Homo sapiens: one gene and its partner. The protein of the gene in region 1 interacts with the protein of each later gene in a pairwise test. Each region holds a gene or a part of one and is shown on either strand. Other genes may lie near its edges. The genes, in order: CDH11 and ATF7IP.

Region 1 (3,828 bases):
CCCTATATTGTGTGTTGCACAGAGTATTAAATGTGAAAAGCAAATAAGATAATGTTGAATCTTAGCTACTTAGTGCAAACCTTCCAGTGATTTCCCCAAGTTTAAACAAAACCTGAAGTCTTTTCCATTCCCCACAATGGTCTATTTTACGCAATTTGGCCTCCACTTCCTTACAGCCCTTCTCTCTCACCAGAAGGCTGTAGTCACTCTCCTCCTCTTGCTCCTCTGCAAGTATTCAGGATCTTCTCACCTTAGGGTTTTTGCCATTTGCTAATCACCTGGCTGGTAGTTTTTATCCTGCAGATATGCACGTCATTGTCTTCCTCAGTCATTTTAGATTCCTTTTTCTAAAGAATGTCTTCTCCTACCACACTACGCAAAACCAATCTCTCCCTCTTTCTGCTTATCACCCACACATTATTAACACAAGCATGCGTGTTCAATCACACTCATACACATACACAAACTCACTCACAAATAGCTCACATTCATACACACACTCACACTCTTACACAACAGATTCATGCCCACACAATCACTCATGGCCACTCACACATTTACCCCCTCACCCTCACACACAATCATGCACTTACACACCCACAACCACACACCCACTCTCAGAACCCTCACCCTTTTACCCTACTTTATTTTCCTTTTTCATTGCAGTGACATCAGAGTGTGTTTACATTTGTTTTTATTTTTTCTCTTTAGTCGGCCTCATTAAGAGAGGAATCTTGACTGTTTTGTTTAGTAGTAAACAAAACAAGCAAACAAAACAGTGTCCTGGCACTAGGACAGTACCTCCATGTACAGTATTAGGCTCCCAATAAACATTAAATAAATATATAGGAGGGTCACACTGCAGGAAAGCCTTCTGGAGAAGGTAACGCATGACCAACTTGTGAAGCAGGCAAGTTGCGAAGGAGGTGAAATAAGGGGAGTGTCGAATATAGAGTTAGACAGGGAGGGATGTTAAAGTTTGCATTTTTAAAGTAACTATGGAGCTGTTGAAGGAAGGCTTTTAAACAGAGAATTTTTTTTTTCTGGGCTCTTCGCAATACCATAAGTGAGCCTTGGAGTTAACTCATGGACCATCCTGAAGACATGAAAAGAAGCTTCAGCTATTTTGCTAAATGAAGACATGCATGGTTCTCCATCATTACCTGATGGGAAATGTAACAGAGCATTGTTTTTCTCCCTTACATGTGGCAGGTGACCCCAGCATTTCACCTGGACCCAGATATTGTTTTATCACCCTTCGTAGAACACATTCTTTTGACAAGCAGGCCATGTGGGATCCTCCTCCCCACATCCACTCACTTCTTTCATGTTTTCAGTCAATAGAAAGTTCAATTTCAAATCCTTTGAGAAATTTATTGGGATTCAATGAAATCTATAGTCTTACAGCTGCCAAATAAAAGAGAAAATAAAAATAGATGTCTTCTTCTTCTAGGCGTATACCAGATGTCTGTGTCAGAAGCAGCCGTCCCTGGGGAGGAAGTAGGAAGAGTGAAAGCTAAAGATCCAGACATTGGAGAAAATGGCTTAGTCACATACAATATTGTTGATGGAGATGGTATGGAATCGTTTGAAATCACAACGGACTATGAAACACAGGAGGGGGTGATAAAGCTGAAAAAGGTGAGTTAGGGTAAGGAATCAGACGTGTCAGTGGTATGGCCTGCTCTGCCAAGGCAACACTGCAAGAAACAGGGAGGCGACGGTTAAGAAATGAGAATTTGCGAAACCAGGGGCTGACCTGACTTTGTAGTTGAGCTCTGAGCTCTGGAAGATCACAGAATTGTATTCCTTTCTGTTACTGCAGAGAAGCTGACAAAGGGGCTGGTGATACCTGCCTGAGATTGCTAGTTAGTTCTTAAATGTTTTCCGATGGAGGGAAGCACAGTTCTCCCATGGAGGGAAGGACAATGAGATAAATCTAGATTTTGAAGAAGCAGCCCTGAGCATGCATGGAATTCCCCCCTTAGCTCTGCCACACTGAATCTGTTAGATAAGCTGTTCAGAACTCTTACTGTTTCAACATTCAAGATTCACTGCATTGCTGGACCCTCTGTGAAACTGAAGCCTTCTCTACTTGTTTTTATCTCAAGTGAACCTGGAGAAGCAACAATAATGGACCTTCTCCCCTAGTCAAAGAGCCTGTGGACCTCCCCTCATAGTCAGTCTCCAAAAACATGTATCTGGAATTAATTTATTACAAAGAGAAGTTTAGTGTTTCTTCTTTTTTACATGCGCTCAATACTGACTACTGGCCAGACACAGCACCATCCTCTTACAAACATCATTTCATTTACTTTTCACAAAAACAAACAAAAGTATGAAGTAGGTAGTGTTATCCCAATGGGCAAAGAGACCTCAACTTAATTTTGAGGAGATTGGGGCTCAGACAGATGAAATCATTTGACCCAGTCACTGTCATATAGCTCAGGCATGCCGACCTGGAATTCACACCTTAGTTATTCTAGAACAACTTCCCTCTCAAGACATTTTGAAAACAGCTGGCCTGGAAAGCGTTTGTAAAGAAGAGCCAGATAAGATTCACTTCCAAGTGAAGAAATAATTCCCGTACATTCTAAAAAGGTTTCCCCCCGTGATTTACCACTTGAGAAATCAACACCTCTCCATCATGAAAGTGTATGGAGCATTAAATCGGAATTGGAAGATGGGATTACCTTGGTTTTAATCAAGCGTTCATTTTCAACTTAGTTTTATAGCATGAATATTAAACTCCTTGGTGCGATGGAAAAGACTGGACTCTAACACTGATAGAAAATTAATTTGAAGCATCAATAAAGAGGCCAGTAGCTAAAGAGGAGGGAAGGACCAGTGGGGGAAGACAGGTCCTGAAAGGAATCTTTCAGGTGGGGGAGCAAGGAGTGACCTGTGCTAAGAAACTGACCTTTCACAGACTTTTAAAGTATGTTGGGGTTGGGGAAAATATTATAGAGCACAAAACAAAGAAAAGGTAGGGGGTGATTGTTATAAAAAAAGAAAGAAAATGAAGGATATGGAAATTGGGGTGAAATTTGGATACTTGGAAAAGTCTACATTAATGGATGAATGGTAGGACCGAGGAAGCCTAATTATCAACCACAGGGAGCTAGGGCAGTCACTAATTCTGGTTTCTCCTCTGGAAAAGTAGCTGTGTGAATTGTGTGTTGCCTAGAGCTGTCAACTTACTTCGTTAATTAATATTACTATCTCTTCTGCTTGACACTGACATATGAACATTGACATCAGCAATTCCTGCCTCCCATCCTTTGCTGTTCATGTAATTGGGTAGTTGGTTATGCTAAGGTTGTCACCTGTTTTTAGTGTATTCAGGGCATAAACACACACTGTATCTCTGAAATCCTGAAACATTTAAATCACCCCCATGGAACTCACACGTCGCAAATGAGCTCTCTGCATATGATTAATTTGCACATTTGCCTCCAATTCAGTGTGTTTATTCTAGGCAAAGGAATAATCTTCTATAAAGCACTGATGCTTAGGTTTTAAATAGTGTAAGATGTTATTGCATTTGTAAAAGAACATTTGCTCAAACTTCTAGCACAAAGTTCCAAATGTCCACCGGGGGAAAAAAAAGAAAAATTATAGATGAATTTAACAGAGTAAAAATATGACTCCTTGTGAAAGTCATTCCATGCAATTTAATACTGTAAAAGTCTATAGAGACATTATGGCAATATTTCTGCATTTTAAAGTATTTTTTAACTTAGTGTTTTTATTTATTTCCTAATTTATTCACCCATTTTTCCACCAAGAGTTATTGAGTTCTTACTATTTGTCAGGCAGGCCCTTTGC
Region 2 (3,828 bases), on another chromosome or scaffold:
TTCTTGCTTGTTTGACCTTATATTTTATTAGAGAGGCCAAGAGTATTTAAACATTACTTTGCCATGTTCTTTCTCAGATTGTCCTGCCATCCACAGAGTAAATCAGGGGCTCCTCCAGGCATTTTAATTTGTTGAAAACAAAGAAAATTAAACTTTTTATAGATGATTCAGCTTGCATGGTGGAAACCATTTTGTATTGGAGACAGAGAGTGAGTGCTGGGGAGCACTTTCAGTTAAGAATAAGTAGATCAGGGCTACTAGTGCTTGTTTATATGGTGTGAATGTTTCAATTTTAAATTTCGATCATTTGGAGTTTAGAATCTTTAAGAGGATGACTCAGGTACCTCAGCCACTTTTCAAAAAAAAAAAAAAAATACCATAGGCCTAAGGGAACAGTTATACCTTCCTGAGAGTCTTTATAGTTGGACCTATATGAATATGAGAATCTGGGAAATGAAGATGACTTATTAACTTTGCCATCAGAAATATGCACTTATTCATGTCTGCAGTTTTCCATTGCTCAGAATATTATAAGAAACATTTTGTGTTCTTTTATATCCAATAACTGGTAGTAACTAGCTGTATTTGGGAGAGAGGACCCCTTTGTATGATGGTGATGTGAGGTAGTAATGCCATAATGTCTTACTATATATGATCCGTTCTCCCTTTCTTTGTTGTTTGTATAGCCCTATGCTACTTTGGGGAAGTATTATCTGGTTTGATACCTAGAAATTATGTGTCCATCACTCTTGGCATTCTAATAATTTAACATTCTAATAAGAAATTTGATTTGTATGTTAGAATAGTTGTCCTCAGAACTGTCAAAGCTGTAAAAGGAACTTTCTTTGGTTCAGTAATTCTCAGTGATAATGCCTACCATTTTGTAGAAGGATAAAGCTAAAAAGATGGAAAGGGAATCTGCTGTTTTGAGGACCAGGAGAAAGAGTTTGATGGAACAATAAAGGATGACTTGACTGCTGCAGCTTATTCCCAGCTAAGGCTTTGGAGCCTTAGATGTATATCTGCCCTGTTACTCTTATTAGATAGAATGTCATAGGAAAAAGCATGTAAGGGAAAAGAGAGACTGCTTTTGAACTCTTTTATTTCCTTTTAGGTGGTAAATGTCAGAAGTGAATTCCATTAGAGTAAAAACTAAGCTGCCACAGTATAGGAGACTCCATTCCTGTTGTTTAAAGATGACACATGTTTTTTTCTCATGTAACCATACAAAGTAAGACTGTTTAGAGTTTGTAAGTGGTTTTGCCTTAACATATGGCTTCCATCACTAGGTGAAACATGATTACTCTCTAGTTTTACTAGCTAGAGGCAAGGAAGAAAGAACAATGGGAGTGCATATTCTTTCTTTTGAGAGCATGATATGGAAGTGGCACATAGCACTTTGACTCATGGTTTATGTGTGATCATTTAGTCATTGGGACATATTTAGCTGGGAAAGGAAGTCTGGGAAATATATCTAGCTGGATAATCATATGCTTAGCTAAAACTAGAGAATTTTATAAAAGAGAAATGGATATTAATGAATAGCATTTTCTGCTATATAAGGAATTGGGAGAAGTGGTCTCAAAGTACTTCATAATTTGGTACTGAAAACTATTTCTCTTTTAAGATTTAGGTTCAGTTATAGTATAACTGTATATTTTCCATTGAAATGGTATTTTGGGGGTTTTGTGTTCATGATTTGTGGTTGGGGTCCCAGTTATTATAAATATTTATATTTGATAGAATTCTTCCCCTCTCTGCTTGCCGTTGAAAACATTATGATTAGTTTTGCAAGAATTAGAATTTCAAATTTTTAAAACTCAGTGTAGTATTTTTGAACTTTACAGGTTAACTTGCTTAATTCAAAAGGACTGTAGATGAATCGAGTGACAATTGTTTGAATAGTTTATGTTTGCATTATTTTATCCAGATTTTTTTTTCTCTGTTTATAACTGTATGTATAAAATATACATTTTCCATGATGGAAAATATGACTTTTTTTTTTTTTAATTGAGACTAGGGTCTCACTCTGTCACTCCAGCTGGAGTGCAGTGGTGTGATCATGGCTCACTGTAACCTTGACCTCCTGGGCTCAAGGGATCCTCCTGACTCAGCCTCCTAGGTAGCTTGGACTACAGGCACATGCCACCAAACCCAGCTAATTTTGTAATTTTTTTTTTTTTTTTTTTTTGTGGAGATGGGGGTCTTGCCTTGTTGCCCAGGCTGGTCTTGAACTCCTGGGCTCAAGCAATCCTCCCCTCTTGGCCTCCCAAAATGTTGGGATTACAGGTGTGAGCCACTGTGCCTGGCCGAAAATGTGACTTCCAAGGGCCTTGTAATATACACAGGTAAAAAGATTGTGGTTGTAAATTCTCTGCATATAGGCAAAACTTACCTGATTAATAAGTAAGTAGTTAAAAGTAGCTTTCTACAGAATATGACAAGTAAAACAATATATATTTTTGTAGGGTACAGAAAGTGGTGAGAGTGTTGGAAGGAGATCAAGGAGATTTTATGGGAGTTGTATTTTAAGGAATGAATTAGACAGATAATACTAGTAAAGAGAATAAATAGTATGTTCAAAATCTTAGAGCCAGAAAGGAAGGTAGTGTGTTAGGAGAACTCTTAATAGCTCTGTGATACAAATCCTTGGTTTTTGTGAATAAAAGTCATAGTTGCCATGGCACCCACATAGTATGCCTATTAAAGCATGTTGTTGCTCTCAACTGGAAATTCTCTAATTTTTCTTTGCTTTACTTCATATATTTTTTAAAGGCATTTATTCCTTTCCACTTTTATATTTATAGTTATTTGTTTTTTGTGTAGTACTTTATAAGTTTCCTGGGGTTAGGAATCATATCTTATTGATATATCTGACAATTTTTTAAGACAAATCCTTTCTAATAAGGTATGATAAGACCACTATTAAAAGTGTAAGATTGCTTTCCACCATGCCTTGCTTTCCACCATGCCTCCCTTAATATTCAATAAATACTTGCTTATTGAAAGAATAGAATTCCTTCGTTTTAGGTGGAGGTGAAAAAAAAAAGGGAATAAGATATTCTAATTATTTTCTTTTATTTAACTCATTATCCACAGATGTCAGAACTTTTTTTTTTTAATCAAACATGTAATTTACTCAGATGGCAAATACCCACATGATGAATTGTCATGGGAAGATTTGACAGGCACTTTACATATGAAAAATAATAAATAGTTGCTTTTAGGAAAAACAGTTTTCAATGTCATCCATTAAGAACCAGTTGCTTGTTAATAAAAAGTTTCTAAAATATGACTGTGAAGAACCTACGTATGTAAATTAATAAGGGTTTGAGGAAAAGATGGAATGATATAATTATTTTGTATTTTAGGTTTGTATAATCCTCTTCCCCCACCAAACTTACTTTAAATGATTTAAACATTGAAAGATAAAAATAAATAAAAAAATGAAGAAAGAAAAGAAGAACAAAAGAAAAAACAAAAAATTTTCCTAAAATCAGTTAGTTATACAGTGAAGTGGAAAGAACAGTAGTTTTGTATTGGGACCTGGGCAATTAGTGTCTCCTCTCAGTGTTCTTTATCTTTAAAATGTGGTGTTACCACCTACATGGTAGTGTTGTGAGGGTTAAATATGATTAGATATATAAAATGCTTAGCATCTGTGCCTCACACATATCTCTAGCTTTAATCAATTGGTGAATCAATTAGTCAGTCATGAATATTTATTAAGAAGCAACTATGTGCAGGGAGCCCTGCAGTACAGGGAGATTTATGAAAATAATATTCTTGATTTCTGGAGCTAGAATGTAAATGCATTTAAAAAGTAAC

Evidence for each region.
Region 2: the proteins of CDH11 (region 1) and ATF7IP interact in a two-hybrid assay, tested with the Homo sapiens proteins (one large-scale study listed by IntAct).

The regions. Positions count from the first base shown.
Region 1 is NC_000016.10:64,985,970-64,989,797, reverse strand, and holds part of CDH11 (cadherin-11 isoform 1 preproprotein), read left to right. Parts: intron 1-1,453; coding exon 1,454-1,641; intron 1,642-3,828. UniProt on the Homo sapiens protein: Cadherins are calcium-dependent cell adhesion proteins. They preferentially interact with themselves in a homophilic manner in connecting cells; cadherins may thus contribute to the sorting of heterogeneous cell types.
Region 2 is NC_000012.12:14,372,103-14,375,930, forward strand, and holds part of ATF7IP (activating transcription factor 7-interacting protein 1), read left to right. Parts: intron 1-3,828. UniProt on the Homo sapiens protein: Recruiter that couples transcriptional factors to general transcription apparatus and thereby modulates transcription regulation and chromatin formation. Can both act as an activator or a repressor depending on the context.